2 separate regions of the Homo sapiens genome follow, and region 1 is linked to region 2. Evidence: fine-mapped expression QTL. Tissue or cell type: esophagus muscle. Region 2 holds a variant in brackets; the other region holds the start of a gene. All regions are shown on one strand. Distances are from middle to middle.

What was found. PIP is the estimated chance that this variant, and not a neighbour inherited with it, causes the effect.
Region 1: ATP6V0E2-AS1 starts here. The variant in region 2 is fine-mapped to the expression of ATP6V0E2-AS1 in esophagus muscle (GTEx, PIP above 0.99).

What each region holds. Positions count from the first base shown.
Region 1 is chr7:149,870,016-149,878,189 of GRCh38, reverse strand. ATP6V0E2-AS1 (ATP6V0E2 antisense RNA 1) reads left to right here and starts at 4,328. Exons shown (of 4, transcript NR_027040.1): 1 at 4,328-4,966; 2 at 6,394-6,548; 3 at 7,839-7,948. ATP6V0E2 (ATPase H+ transporting V0 subunit e2) reads right to left here and starts at 4,221. Exons shown (of 4, transcript NM_145230.4): 1 at 4,021-4,221; 2 at 2,545-2,592. The coding sequence starts at 4,124. RefSeq lists silencers at 3,785-3,964, 4,375-4,454, 4,485-4,694 and enhancers at 3,985-4,124, 3,454-4,422.
Region 2 is chr7:149,913,547-149,921,726 of GRCh38, reverse strand. It overlaps a transcript of ACTR3C not described here. Among named protein-coding and RNA genes, the nearest start is that of ATP6V0E2, 44 kb to the right of the region's middle. The variant A/G (reference allele first, on the strand shown) is at 3,123.

The sequences.
Region 1 (8,174 bases), 44 kb after region 2:
GTTCTTCAGGCCAGAAAACCCTCAGGGACCTGCCCCACCTGTCATCACTGCTGGGCGTGTGGGTGGCTGTCTGGCCCCATCATTCATGACAAAGCTCCCAACTTCATTTGCCACAGTAGTTAGTAGGTCCCCACGCTCTGTCAGTGCCTGACCTGGAAGGGCCCCCCACGACCACATCCACACTGCTTTGTCTGTTTCTGCAGGAAGGATCGGTATTTTCCCTCTTTGAATCCCTCACAGTAGGTAGGAGGACCTAACGCCCAGGAAGCCATCAGAAATTGTTACCTCCTTTACATCAGCATTCTCTCCGAGTTTATGTTTTGTAAATATAATTTCTAGGCGTAACATTTTCTTAGAATGACCCCACCTTTCTACCTGTATGCATCCAATTTGCAGTGTGTTTTCTGTTTCCCGTATGTTGATTCAGTTGGTATTTGGGATTACCCCGCATCTTGTGTAGGCCCCGTCTCCCCCACCCTCCCAGCCACCAAACACAAGCCCCTCTGAGGCCCTGCCATGGGCAGATGAGGATCTTTTCTCAAGCCCTGAAGGACCTAGAAATAGCATTAGAGAAAGGACCTCAGAGAATGCTCTGTCCAGGAAGAATTTTGAAAAAAAAAAAAAAAGTGGGTTTAAGTTAAACCATGTGTTAATAGTCATCATTATTTCTAACAAGTTTAGTTTTTGTCAGTAGGAGGGCTTATACATTTCTGGGTGCAGTGGCGTGTACCTGTAATCCTAGCTACTCAGGAGGCTGAGGTGGAAGGATCACTTAAGCCAAGGAGTTCAAGCACAGCCTTAGCAACATGGCAAGACCCTGTCCTACAGAAAATTTAAAAATCAGCCAGGCATGGTGGCACATGCCTGTGGTCAAAGCTAGGCTGAGGTGGGAGGATGGCTTGAGCCCAGAAGGTTGAGGCTGCAGTGAGCTATGATCCCACCACTGCACTCTAGCCTGGGCAACAGAGTAAGACCCTGTCAATTATCTAATTAGTTAACAGCCGGGTGCAATGGTGTGCACCTGTCATCCCAGCTCCTTGGGGAGGCTGAGGCAGAAGGATCATTTGAGCCCAGGAGTTTGAGACCATACTGGCCTGGTCTCAAGACCCCATTTCAATCAATCAATCAATAAAACATAAGGTAAATTAAGAGAATTGGTTAATAGGAATAAAGAATCCATGACCTAATCAGATAAAACAATTTTAACTATGATAACATCAAATCTTAAATCAATGAAGTAAATTTTTTGAAAGTGGGTTTTGTCCTATGTATTTTGAAAAATTTGGCAACCCTGGAAAATATTCCAGTTGTTTCAAAAGAATCTGTTACCTCTTAAAGAATGAGCATCTCATCACTTTACCTGTCCTGTTTTGATTATTCTGAATTAAGAACACCCAACGATGCCAAGCTTAACCCATAAAAATAATGTACAAGACATAGGAAGATGGGAAACCCAACAGCCTTAATGCAGCTTGATTAACCATGAGACAGGCCTCCCAACAAACTAGAACTTGAACTTATCTCTTGGTTGGCAGCCAGGATCATCTAAACATGGAGCAATGTAACCGCAGGTTTGGGATGGATGCGGGGGCAGGGTCTTTTTCTTTTTCCTTTTAAAAAATTTTTTTAATAAAGAGGGATTGGCTATTGTGAATGGCAGTTTTAGCAAGAGACTAAACAATAGACACTGAGGATCTGCAAACTGATTTCCTCACACTCTCCAGGTATTCAAGTCCCTTGGAATGTTCTTCTATATCCCCAGGGTACCTATTCCAAGTTTGATGACTTACTCTCACCTAGTGGTTCTTTTTTTAGAGTCGGAGTCTCACTCTGTTGCCCAGGCTGGAGTGCAGTGGTAAGATCTTGGCTCACCGCAACCTCCGTCTCCCGGGTTCAAGCGATTCTCCTGCCTCAGCCTCCTGAGTAGCTGGGACTACAGGCACGCGCCACCAGGCCTGGCTAATTTTTGTATTTTTAGTAGAGACGGAGTTTCACTATGTTGGCCAGACTGGTCTCGAACTCCTGACCTCGTGATCCACCCACCTCAGCCTCCCAAAGTGCTGGGATTACAGGCGTGAGCCGCCACGTCTGGCCTCTCACCTAGTGGTTCTAAGATGGCTGCATTCCAGTCACCTGGGGGCATTCATGAACAACAGGAATTCCCAAGTGCAGATCTCGAGAGTTGTAATTTCATGGGTGTAGGGTGCAGCCTGAAAACTGTGTTTGAACAATCACTCCAGGTGACCCAGTCAGGCACAGACAGCACTGAGGTGGCCTGCCTCCTTCCTTGCCCAGGTGAGAAAACTACAGCCCATGGGGGCCAGAACTCTGGGGGCAGAGCCAGATCCAGAGCCCAGGGTTCATGACTTCTGGCCCACTGCTCTCTTTCCCATTCCACACCACCTCCACTCCTGTTGTTTTATAGGTTCAGCCTTTCAAGAGGCATTTACTACCAGGACAGAAGGAAGAGCAGGCTAGGGTGAGGAGGAAAGGAGGGAGGACAAAGGAACTGGCTGACTTTGAGCTGGGGAGAGTAGTACTTACAAGAGGTAACAGCAGACGGCGGTGGCGACCAGCATGGTGATGATCACTCTGCAGCAGAAGAGGACACGGGTCAGAACAAATGCAGCCAGCACCTCACAAGGCCTGGCCAGGACCAGAGCAAGAAGAGCTCCTGGTGTGAGCTCTTTTCCATTGGCCTTCCTGATGCCTCCTGGACACAGGAGGCTGAGTTCTACTCAGGGTAAGAATAGCAAGGCAGAAAATAAAAACTGAAAGTGTCACCTCACAGAGAGGCCAACCTTGACCACATCCAAGTTGCCTTAAGAATCCTTCCCTTCATTTCCCTTCTCTACCACCCAATATTGCTCCATCTTAATGCAGACGTGTTGTGGAAAGGCACTGCACAGAGCTGCATTTGTGGCAACCCAACAGGGAGTGGTCTGTAGAATTCAAAATTCATGGAGCAAGGGGAAGGAAAACAATAGGCTAGAAGACAGGGCAAGAAGCAGGCAGACTGTGAGCCAGTTCTGAGGCCCAGTGAGTTGTTACAAAGAGAACAGGGACTAGCCACTTTGCGTGTACTCAGAGAAGACCAGAGACAGATGCTTCAAGTGCAGCAAAAGAAATTTCAGTCAAACTGAAGCAAGAACTCACCAAGAATAGCAGGAGACGCAAGACACGAAAATGGTTTACAAAGTGAAGCTGTGGGATCCCAAACCCTGCCTGTCTTTAAGAACAAAGGCAGCACTCACATGTCCAAACGGCCTTTGGGCAAAGCTAACTCTAATCCAAACGAGGCCCTTGATCTTTGATCTAAAGCACTGCAAGCTGGTGCTGGACACAGGAGCACGCGATCCCTTTTTCAACATTACTAAGCAGGTTGTGCCAGTCCTGGCTGGGCACTGAGTAGACAATGGTGAACTGGACAAACTCCAGCCCCTGGGAACATGCAGTCAAGGGAAGGGTGCTTTGTAACTGAAGATAATATGAAGCAGAAACTGGTGAATGGCGCAGCAATCTGCTAGAGGACCTTCGAAAAATAACGCCAGCTAAACTTATCCCATACCTACAAAGTGTCACGCACTGGTAGGTGTTTTAAATGCGTTACCGCAGGTCATCCTCACAGCAGCCTTTTAAGGCAGGAGTCGACATTATCTCCATTTTACCCATGAAGAAACTGAGACTTGATATTGGCTCTAGGTCACACAGCTAGCAAGGAGTGGAGAAACTGCGTCAGTGCCCACTTGTGCCCTTTACTGGCTGCAGGAGGGGTGACAGACATCTCCAATGTCACTCTCCTCTTTACCTTCTGGATATGCCCTCTCGCCCCACCTCCTGCCTGTTCCCGGCTGTCAGAGACCCAGGTGCAGAGAGACCTCAGAGGTGGCGTCCGGGGTCCTGGCGTCCCTCCTGCGGACGCTCGCTGCAGAGCAGGAAGCCGCCGCCCCGGGGCGGAGGGGCGAGCCGGGCCAGGGGGCCGGGGTGGAGAGGTCTGCAGGGCCTGCGCGCTTTCCTTACCCGCGGTTGGGTCCCTTCGGCACGAACCAGGGCCCGGCGATGCCGACGAGGCCCCAGAACGTGGTGAAGATGATGACCGGGAGGGCGAATGAGTGCGCCGTCATGGCCGGGCGCAGGATGCCCAGGCAGGATGCAGGGCCGAGCAGCGGGCGCTGCAGGTGCGCGGGTCCCCAGCCGGGCAGCGCGCTGAGCATGCGCAACAGGAGTCGAGCACCCGAAGCGATCAGCCGGGCCGGGCCGCGCACGCGCATCTCCTGATCCAGCCCGCCGCGCTGTCACTCAGGACCTGCCTAGGAGCCCACTCGCTGATTGGCTGAGCAGGGCCGCGGACAGAGAGAAATGCCGAGGAATAGGGGCGCGGCCGCCCGGTTTCGGCGATGGGTTATAGGGTCCGCGTCAGCCCCGCGCCCGCACAGCCAACGTCACGCCGCATTCTTATTTCCAAAGACCCCTGGAGCTTGGGGTCCCACCCCAGCGGTCTTTCGGGGCGTCCCCTGCCCTTCACGCGCCGCGCCGGCTCGGCCCGAAGCGCCCTGCGGACCCGCAGCCTGGGCCGCCCCGAACCTGACGGCCCCGCGGGGGTCGGACGCGGGAGGAACGGCCTCGCTTTCAGAGACGCAGCGGGAGGGCGGTCCCCGCTGTCCCTCTGGCCGGGTCCTCAGCACGCGTTCTCCTCACTCCCAGGACTAGCGAGCGGCGGGCGCGGACCGGGGCCTGGGGTCGGAGGCGGCGCAGCCAGAAAGGCCCCAGCGGCGCTGAGACGTTTGGGGGAAGGCGGGGGCTTCGCGTTTCGATGGCGGGAAGCGGAATGAGGTTGGACCGGCCGGGCCGGCGTTCAGGGACCCGGCGGGAGGCGGAGGGCTGGCGTCCTCGCGGACATCCATCTGCAGCGAACCAGGCAGAGGCTTTGGGATTAGATCCTTGACTCCTTGCGTCAGTAGTTAAGGTTTGTTTAAATATAAAATGGGATGGCCCTTCTTACAAGGTTGCTGGAGGATTAAATGAATAGGCATGTGGAAAGCACCTAGTATAATAAGGCTCGGTAGTTTCTTCCATCAGGGCTGGAAGAGACCACGGAGCCTGCTTTCCTCCTTCGGCGTTTGGATCTCACATATCCCTTCTTCTCTGGCGATCAAAAATCCCTATCTTCTGTAGAGATCCCTTTTACAGATCAGTGGCCTCCAGGCGGTATCTCTAGCAACAAGTGCTACCCCAAGCGGCCGGCCACACATATTCCCTGGCTTCATGACATAGGGAGGCGCAGTCCCCACGTGATGCAGAAGGGAAATGTGCCTGTCCTTGCACTGACCCCGTCAGCCATGTGTGCTCCTGGCTGTTTTCTGAAATCAAGAACCAGTTACATCCGCCCTTCTCCGTTCTCTAGTTGAAACCTCCCTATCCATCCTTCCAACATTCATGTAAGTTGGAGGTGGGCGTGGGATGACACCAAACTGTTAGGTATAAAATACCATCCTAGCCTTCGAGGGGTTTCTAAAGTAGTTGAGGAGTGATATATTCTGGTAAAATCATAATGCTGGACAGCGCAGTTCTAAGAGCCCTGTGATCAAAGTAGCCAAATGCCCATTATGAGAATTCAGAGGGTGGAGAAATCCAGGAAGACTCCCTGGAGGAGGTGAGATTTTAGCTGGATTGTAAACAATGGTTATTTTTCTCATCCAGAGTGTGTACATTGTTGAGAACACTGGCCTAGGATAAGGGTGCACTTGGCATCCAGGAGATAGAGTTAAGAGTATGTCCATACAGGCCTTCAAAAAATCACCACGAGGGCTGAGCGCAGTGGCTCACACCTGTAATCCCAGCACTATGGGAGGCAGAGGCGGGCGGATCACGAGGTCAGGAGATCGAGACCATCCTGGCTAACACGGTGAAACCCCGTCTCTACTAAAAATATAAAAAAATTAGCTGGGCATGGTGGCGGGCACCTGTAGTCCTAGCTACTTTGGAGGCTGAAAGGAGAATGGCGTGAACCCGGGAGGCAGAGCTTGCACTTGCAGTGAGCCGAGATTGTGCCCCTGCACTCCAGCCTGGGGGACAGAGTGAGACTCCGTCTCAAAAAAAAAAAAAAAAAAAAAATCACCACGAAAGTTCTATAGCTCAAAAAAGACGGACTTTTTGAATTTTGTTCTGGAAAAAAAAAAATCCTCTGTAGAAAATGACAGCTGTAAAGTGAAATGTATTTCCTTCTTTGCCTCTGCTCCTTTGTCTTGGCTTTGGCCAGAACCAAAAACATTGCTGAGTCTGAGCAGCCACTCATATTAGCAGCCTGCAGCTCTTACTCTTTTCCTTTAATGTCTTTGATGTTTCATTTCTGTCCTAATTTGCATGTGATTGCCTGTGTCATTTGTTTGGCAGCTTTGTGATGGTCTGAGGTCCATGAAGGGATTAAAACCAGGAACTGGCTCCTTCTCCAACCACTAAAGCCTCATCTGGGCCCACAAGCCCTGGCTGTTCCCTGGAGCGTGACTGGAAGATGTGAGCAGCTTTGTGCTGGAGCCCCATTTCCATGGGTAAACTGTTCACCTGATCAAACAGCTCCCCAGAGTTCCACAGTACCACATATTTATTTTCTAGAACTTTGTTTTTAGCTGAAAGGGATCTTAGAGGCTAAGGCAATCCTATCACTTTACAGGTGATAAAACTGAGGCCCAGAGAAGTGAAGTAACTTGCCTAGGCCCACACAGCTCATCAGTAAAAGAGCCAGAACACATGGCCGAGACTTCTCCCTAATCCAGCGTCTCCTCCACACTCCCAGCTCACCCCTAGGGTTTGTGCCCAGGCTGAGGACACTATTTTCAGAGGCACTAATGTGAGGCAAAGGGCATGTTACCAGACACAGCCCCGCCTACCCCGGTCCCCTGAGGTGGAGCTGTGCATTCCACTGGCTTCACGGTTCCCCTCTGCCCTGGCGGCTTCTGGTTGGTATTGGCGCCACCGACTGCTCTGCCATGGCTCCTCAGTGAGTGCTTTGGGTGTGATTGACAAGTTTCCATGACATCTCCCAGGGAGTGGGGTCCTGATGTTGGTGACATCTCTATCGTTCATCTTTTCATGGGGCTGATGAATTCCTAGAAAGGGTAGAAGGAGAAGGAGCCACTGAAAGAGGCTCTTTAAAACTTCCCTGAGTGTCCCCCAGTGCAAATGAACAGGAGCCCCAGGACACTTGAAGGCCCTAGGAAATCACACCTCAGAGCCACAGATGCATCCTAATGCTCTCTGCAGACGGGGCACGTGTCGGAGGTGAGAACAACAGCTCCAGATGTCTCTGTCTTTGCAAATAAGGCCTGTGACATTTAATGATGTAACCACCTACCTTCCACCCATTGTTCTGGTGGCCATGAGTAGAAGGAATTATACCAGGATGTGATAAGAAGGAATTAGGAGCTGGGAGTCTTGCTGGGTGAGGACCTTGGCCCCTTGCTTGCTTGCCATCTAATAGGGGCACTCCTGGCCTGTGGGGTCAGGGAGAACTAGACCCAGAGCATGGTTGTCTCTGTGACTAGTTGAGCCTGTTTCTCCTTCAAGGGCCCTGGCAGTGGGAAAACATATTATGACAATTGCACTGTTTTATCAGCCCTTGGCACTCCTGAAGTTGCCCTGAAATAAACATCCCTACCTGTATGCCAGGCCCTGCCTACTTCTGGAGCTCTCTTAGGTTTACAACCTACCCCCGCTGTCCCAAATTGATAGGGTGAGCCCAGGGCATTAAATGGGTGGTGCAAGTCAGGCTTCAGGACTGACACGGGTCTATGTGCGCTCAGTGTGGGTTGAGGGGCACTGGGCTGTCTTTCTCCCTACAGTGCATGCTGCTGCCAAACCAGAGATCACTTGTAGACTTGAAAGGGAACATGAGCTTTGGGTGAAGGATTCCCAGCCCCCAACAGAGGCCAAAAAGCTACCACCCAGCCAGGTAAGCCTTGATGGAACATCTCTTGCACAAAGATCACCATGTTCATTGAGCCTTTAGTGCCTCCTGGGCTCTGATCAACCCACGAATCAGTATCTCCGCAGCACTTCCTGTGGTTTGGATTCAGGTTTTTTACTTCTGTTTCCTGCCTTTATGATAGGAGTTTGGGTAACCTGTGAGAAACACAGCCACAGTGTAAACCTCTTGAGACAAGCTACACTGATGGGAC
Region 2 (8,180 bases):
TTTTGTATTTTTAGTAGAGATGGGGTTTCACCATGTTGGCCAGGCTGGTCTTGAACTCTTGACTTCAGGTGATCTGCCTGCCTCAGCCTCCCAAAGTGCTGGGATTACTAGTGTGAGCCACTGTGCCCAGCTAGAATGGAATTTTAGATAAAGCCACTTTGCTCTTAAATTTAGACAACACGAGCTCAATAAAACAAAAGAACAAAGAAGTAATTTTAAAAGATTAAAGAAAGCTAAAAGGAGGAGATGGAGGTCAGCTGACATCCATAAGGAAAGAAATAGAAAACTAAAATCATTTCAGGAATTAAAAGCATGTTGGAGGTTACATGAGGTAGTACCAGTGGTTCTGAAATCACTGATGTGAGGATCAACTTCCTGAAATTACGTAGACCACGGTAGGAAAGAACAAAGAGGTCATGGTGATTAGAAAGAAGATGGAAGCTGTGGGAGAAGAGTCCAGAAGGCATCTACTGTAGTCAGAGCTGGTGTTCCTGCTGAAGAGAACAGAGTGTGTGGAACAGATGTAACATTAATAAATAAAAGACAAAGTTTTCCTGGAATATAATGAAAGATCATATAATATTAATATAAGGACTCACTGTGAACTGGAAAAAATTCAGAGTCATTAAAATGGAAGCGTATCCTGGTTAATTTATAAAACCTGAAAGATAGGCCGGGCACGGTGGCTCACGCCTGTAATCCCAGCACTTTGGGAAGCCGAGGTGGGCAGATCACCTGGGGTCAGACCAGCTGACCAACATGGAGAAACCCCATCTCTACTAAAAATACAAAATTAGCCAGGTGTGGTGGTGCATGCCTGTAAATCCAGCTACTTGGGAAGCTGAGGCAGGAGAATCGCTTGAACCTGGGAGGCAGAGGTTGAGGTGAGCCAAGATCATGACATTGCACTTCAGCCTGGGCAACGAGAGTGAAACTCCATCTCAAAAACAAAACAAAACAAACCCCTAAAAGATAAAAGAATACTACACATATTTAAGCAGGAAAAAAGCCAACAGGCCACCTATAATGGAAAAAATAAAATCACCTTAGTCTTGGGGTTTTCAACAGTGTAATGTGCCAAAAGATGATGAAGCAATGCTTAAGAATGTAGGGGGACTGGGCACAGTGGCTAATGCCTGTAATCCCAGCACTTTGGGAGGCCAAGGCAGGAGGATTGCTTGAGCCCAGGAGTTGGAGACCAGCCTGGGGAACATAGCAAGACCCTGTCTCTGTCCCCCTGCCCCCTAAAAGAAAAAGCCAGGTGTGGTGATGCGTGCCTGTGGTGTCAGTAACCTGGGAGGCAGAGGTGGGAGGATAGTGTGAATCTAAGAGTTCGAGGTTACCGTGAGTTGTGACTGCGCCACTGCACTCCAGCCTGGGTGACAAAGCGAGACTCTGGCTCAAAAGGAAAAAACAAGAGTAGGGGAGTTAGGGCAAGAAGGAAGACAATGTGATTGGATTGAAATGTCATTAAAATGCAGCATAATAAGACATTTGCAAATGGGCAAAAGCTCAGGAATTAATGGCATTCATAAACCTCACTGAAAAATCTACTTGCAGATATAACCCAGCCAACTGAAAGATGAATCAGTGAGGGCTCCAGAAATAGAGAGGTTGAAGTATAAAGATACCAGCTTCAATAATTGAATAATCTTTCTTGGAGAAATAAGCCAGAAGGCAAAAACAATTGAATAAATACCGACTCAACCTTAAAAATGTCAACACAATGATAACATGCCATAGCAAAATTTCCTGGAAGTCAACAATATCATGGGGGATTAGGTTAGGTTTGGGCTGGGGAGTGGGAGATACCACTGTGCTAATTGTCGTATCTTTCAGAATATGTGGTTAAGGAATACTGTTTCATTTTTTTGAAATTGATAAATTGAGAAGGCTATTATGCTAAAAACAGACTTTGTATACCTTTGAAATGTAAAAGTAAAAGTAAAATTGAGAGGAAGAAAAGCAACCAAATAAAATAGATTACAGAGTAAAAGGAAACAGGCAACAACAAGGAATAGTACAAAAGTTAAAACGAGTAAGACTGTTGCACCTGAGATGACCTCACCTGGCATGGACTCAACTAAATTCACTTTCTGTACTAAACAAAAACTATGGTAGTTACATATAAGTCATTCATTCAGAAAGTAAAAGGTTGGAAAAAAATTCAAAAAAGAAAGTAAAAGGGGCCAGACGCGGTGGCTCACGCCTGTAATCCCAGCACTTTGAGAGGCCGAGGTGGGTGGATCACTTGAGGTCAGAGTTCGAGACCAGCCTGGCCAACATGGTGAAACCCCGTCTCTACTAAAAATACAAAAATTAGCTGGGCATGGTGGTGGATGCCTGTAATACCAGCTACTCAGGAGGCTGAGGCAGGAGAATCGCTTGAACCCGGGAGGTGGCAGTTGCAGGGAGTGGAGATCATGATACTGCACTCCAGCCTGGGCAACAGAGTGACTCTGTCTCAAAAAAAAAAAGCAAAAGGATGGTTCAAAAATAAGCCAAACAAATGCACAGTAAAAGAAAGCGTGAGTATTATTTGATTGCAAAACAAAAAAAATTAAATGAAACAAGGGTTTAATTATTATTTTTTTGGTTTATTTAAAAATGTTTGATTTTATCATTGTACTCCGACCCTGCCAGTTAACTGTGGGTGCAGAGAACCTTTGCTTTACACATTCCGGAAAACTTGTAGAGAAGGCTGAAGCCAGGGAGGAGCAAGTGCCCAGCAGTGTGGGGCGGCAGAGGGTCTCACCATGGCCTGAGTATTTTGGGCTGTCCGCACTTGCTCCTCAGCCCTCCTATTCCAGTCCCACAGGTACATGGGCACCAACAAGTTCCAGAGCCTTTAAGGATCTAGGGAGTGTGTTGGGCTCGTTCTCAGCTCTTGCCCCTGCTGTCTTTCTTATATCTCTAAAGTCAGGCACGATGGGTCCTCAGCTTTTCAGGGCCAAAATCTTGCTGTTGTCACCTTTTCTTTTCTCCACATCCTCATGGTTTAATATTGCTTTAAATTTTTTGTTGTTGTTGTTTTTTGAGATGGAGTTTTGCTCTTGTTGCCCAGGCTGGAGTGCAATGGCGTGATCTCAACTCACTGCAACCTCCGCCTCCTGGGTTCAAGC[A/G]ATTCTCCTGTCTCAGCCTCCCGAGTAGCTGGGATTACAGGCATGCGCCACCGCACCTGACTAGTTTTGTATTTTTAGTAGAGATGGGGTTTCTCCCTGTTGGCCAGCCTGGTCTCGAACTCCCGACCTCAGGTGATCCGCCTGCCTCGGCCTCCCGAAGTGTTGGGATTACAGGTGTGAGCCACTGCGCCTGGCCTAAATTTTTTTTTTAATTTTTAAAATAATTGCTTAAAAATTTTTTTTGCTTTGGTTTTAGTGGGGCTTTGGGAAAGAGTGAAATTAGATAATATGTTTAGTCCATCATTTAAACAGTTAAAACACTTTTAAAACACTTTAACTGGAAGTCAGAGTTTACCTTACAACAATGTTCAGAATTCACAAAAGGGCAGTGTGCTTTATGATCTTATATATACGAAGTAACATAGAGAAAAAAAAAGTACTCAGAAGGAGAAATAGAAAATTTAAGGACGGGCAAAGATACTGGATCTGGATAAAATATTTAAGTTTGAACTTTATATATTGAATTCTTCGTTCTATAGAGACTATGCTTTTCTATGCAGCAAGCCAAGGAACATTAAAAAAATTGGTCATGTAATTTACATTGCACAATATGGAGATTGTGCGTTGCTTTAAAACTATTGTTAGCGTCTGGGAACAATTTTACTTTTATCAAAACCATGTTTAAACTGTGAAAAATCTTAAGAGGGAGTAGAGCTATTCTGATTGAAGTTTGGGGTTTGAGACTGGACCTCACCAGGGGTCTCAATCAAAAGAACTTCTCACAGGACACAGTTTGAGAACACTAGCCAGGCATGGTGTCGTGCACCTATAGTCTCGGCCACTCAGGAAGTTGAGGCAGATGATTGCTTGAGGCCAGGAGGTCAATGCTGCAATGAGCTATGATTGCACCACTGCACTCCAGCCTGGGTGACAGAGTGAGACCCTGTCTCAAAAAAAAAAAAAAAAAAAGATGTAAAACACTGTTTTAAGATGTAACATTTCTACTTTCAAACATAAATTAATTGACCTTAGGTTCATTACCTTCTGCTTAAGACACATGGTTGGAAGAGGAGTTTCAATTATATATAAATATGTTGAGTCAACAATAGGTTAATTTTCCTGACTTTGCAGAACTGAAAAGTCTACATATTACTGCTGTCAAAAGATAGGAGCATTTAACAAGTAAAGTGAAAGAGTCTTCGTGCAAGAACTGTTTAAAATGTTTGGGGCAGGCTGGGTGTGATAGCTCAGCCTGTAATCCCAGCACTTTGGGAGGCCGAGGCGGGCAGATCACCTAAGGTTGGGAGTTTGAGACCAGCCTGACCAACATGGAGAAACCCTGTCTCTACTAGAAATACAAAATTAGCTGGGCGTAGTGGCGCATGCCTGTAATCCCAGCTACTCGGGAGGCTGAGGCAGGAGAATCGCTTGAACCCAGGAGGCGGAGGTTTCAGTGAGCCAAGATCGCGCCATTGCACTCCAGCCTGGGCAACAAGAGCGGAACTCCATCTCAAAAAAAAAAAAAAAATATTTGGGGCAAATAATAATATATTGTATGTACAGAGAGAAGCATCGGAAAGATACACAGGAATAGAAGGTGGATAGAAGGCAGAAATGGGGTAGTGTAAGACTTCTTAAAGGATACCTTTTTATATTGCTTTGAATTTTGAGCTATAACATATTCTTTGCTTAAAAGGCAGACATGTAACTATTGGTAGTGCTTTATGCAGCTATTGATTGGGTCTGCTTCCATAGCTTCCTCTTCTGTCTTTCCTGATTTCTGTATGAGAAAAGGTCTCAGACAAGTTAAGGGACTCATGGAAGGTGGTGTGAGTTTGAGAACATGGCTGGCAATCTGTAAGTATAGTTTATGTATTTTTGAGAGTAGTGCCTACCTCCATCATGCTAGCTTTGGGAAGGTAGTGTTAAAAAAACCAAGGGCTTTTAATGCAAAGTTGATGGTCTTGAATGCTTATATACATATGTTTGGGAAAATTGGATTAGTGTAGTTCTTCCCATTTGGGATAAAATATATATATATAAAAGTGGAAGAGAAATGATATGACATTTTAGCATATAGAGGGACTTTCAAAGTAGAAACATAATAAAGGAAATTATTCAGGAAAATAATTGGTAGATTTGATCACCTAGACTGTTTAAATACTTATATTGCAGAAAATGTATAACAAGGTAAACAACAAGCTGGGAAAAATTAGCAATGTAATGAGCAAGCACAAATATCCTCAGTGTATAAGCATTCACACAAATTGATAAGAAGCACTAAAACTCCAGTAGAAAAGTTATCCAAGGACAATTCATGAGAGAAATAGAGATCACTAGTATACAAAAAATAATATTCAGTAATAAGTAAATAAATCACTGCACCATGAAATCCTACTTCTTTTGAATTAGGAAATATTATCCAAAAATGGCAACATTTAACACTGAGGTAGGGATTATTACCCACGTTTTAGAGATGAAGAAACCAAGGAATGAAGGGATTAATTTACTTGCCTGAAATCACATAGCTGGTGCTGGGATTTGAACCTAGCATTGTGTCCCTATTAAGCTGGCCTCACATTATAAATATATACTGTTTTCAAGCACTTTCAAGCTATATTATATATCCGTTTATGGCAGTAAGTATACATCTTCATTTTTGATGGTTGTATAGAATTTTATTGAATGGATGTAATATAATTTATTTAATATATCCTCTATTTTGAGTGTTTCCAGGTTCTGGTGGTGGTTTTGCTATTATAGTGCTTCACCGAACATTTTTGTGTGTGTATATCTTTGCATACATGTACAAATACTTATGTGGGGTAGGTTCCTAGAAAGGCACTATTTGGCTAATAGGGTATGTGCATTAAAATTTTTGATAGCTAATGTGACACTTTATAATGGCTCTTTAACCCTTTACTATCACCTGTGTATAATTTACCACCACCTTCAGTATTGGCACCAGTTTTGAATGGCTTTGCATTAAATTTGTAGGTAGATTTAGTGATATTCAATATTTCTTTTAAAAATATTGACTCTTCCTCATCCTGAACCAATTGACCAGAAAACAAAAAACAAAAAAAACAAAATGGACTCTTCCTGTGTAAGATTAAGGCATGTCTCTATTTGTCTGCTTGTACATAGAGAGTTTATTTAAAGAGCAATATTATTTTTAAGGGTAGGAGTAATAGCTTATTCATGTAGTTATGTAGTGTATTCTTAAGGGTAACATTCTATTGCTGTTGCCATTCTGAGTGGGATGTTTTCATCCATTATATGTTCTTATTGTTAGACAGGGTAGTTGTTGATTTCTGTCTATTCATTTAGTAACTGGTCATCTTTTTTAATTCCCTTATTGCTTTAGTTTTTCACTTAATTTCCTTAGTTATTCAAGGTATACAGTTATCATCTATAAAGAATGAAATTTGCCATGCGCGGTGGCTCATGCCTGCAATCCTAGCACTTTGGGAGGCCGAGGTGGATCGCCTGAGGCCAGGAGTTCCAGACTAGCCTGGCCAACATGGTGAAACCCCGTTTTTACTAAAAATACAAAAATTAGCAGGGCGTGGTGGTACACGCCTGTAGTCCCAGCTACTCAGGAGGCTGAGGCAGAAGAATCGCTCAAACATGGGAGGTGGAGGTTGCAGTGAGCCGAGATTGTGCCACTGCACTCCAGCCTGGGTGACAGAGCAAGACTCCGTCCAAAAAAAAAAAAAAAAGAATTAAATTTTAATCTCCTCCTTCTTCCCAAAATCCTTTTCCTTTACTCTGTTCTTTTTGATTTGTAATATCTAATTCTTCCTAAACAGTGTAAAATCAGAATAATGATAGTAGATCTCCTTGGCTTAATTCTGGCTTCAATAAGGATTCTTCTAGTGTTTCATTTTATTTTGGTTTGAGATTTTTTTTTTCTCCCATCATCTGTTCCTAAGGAATCTTTCCCTTTTTAGCTTAAGTTTTTTACTTTCCTGGATTGAGCCTAGATTTTTTTTTTTTTTACTACTTCTGTTTGTTTATTTATTTATTTATTTATTTTTGAGATAAAGTCTCACTCTGTTGCCCAGGTTGGAGTGCAGTGGCGCCAGGGCTCACGCGATTCTTGTGCCTCAGCCTCCTGAGTAGCTGGGACTGCAGGCACGTGCCACCATGCCCAGCTAATTTTTTGTATTTTAGTATAAAGATGGGGTTTTACCATGTTGCCCAGGGTGGTCTTGATCTCCTGAGCTCAGGTGATCCAACACCTCAGACTCCCAAAGTGCTAGGATTACAGGTGTGAGCCACTGTGCCTGGCCTTTTTTCACTACTTCTTAATTGCATAGTTTGAATTGGAAAGCATTTCCTACATTATTTTTTTTCATAGAGTACCTAAACACACAGTGTTTTAAATAATAAGACAAAATTGCTGCATTTGGTAGCTGGGCTCGGTGGCTCACACCTATAATCCTAGCACTTTGGGAGGCCAAGGTGGGAGGATCCCTTGAGCCCAAGAGTTTGAGACCAATCTGGGCAACATAGGAAGACCCCTCTCTACAAAAAAATAAAAAAAAACTTAGCCGGGTGTGATGGCATGTGCCTGTGGTCCCAGCTACTTGGGAGGCTGAAGTGGGAGGATCACTTGAGCCCAGGAGGTTGAGGCTGCAGTGAGCCGTGATCACACCACTGTACTCCAGCTTGGGTGACAGAGTGAGACTGTCTCAAAAAAAAAAAAAAAAAAAGGGACATATGAGTTATTTCTTCTGAACTTCTGACCAGTATTAAACTTCAGTATTATAGATATATCGTGCTAAATGTGGTGGGTGGAAGAAGGTTGTGGTATAATGTGACAGTGAGGAAGCTTGCATTATATAAAAATGCTAAAGGTGACTTCATGTGGCGTAGTTGAGGTCAGTGAGTTCTAAGCTGGTTGACCGCCAGAACCATGCGGGTGAGCGAGGGGTGTTAAGAACACAGATGCCCAGCCTTCTCTGGAGATTCCCATTTAGTGAATCGCGCACGGCCCCTGGGAATCTGTTTCCGGAGTTTCCCAGGTGATCTGGTCAGCCACATGTGGCTTAT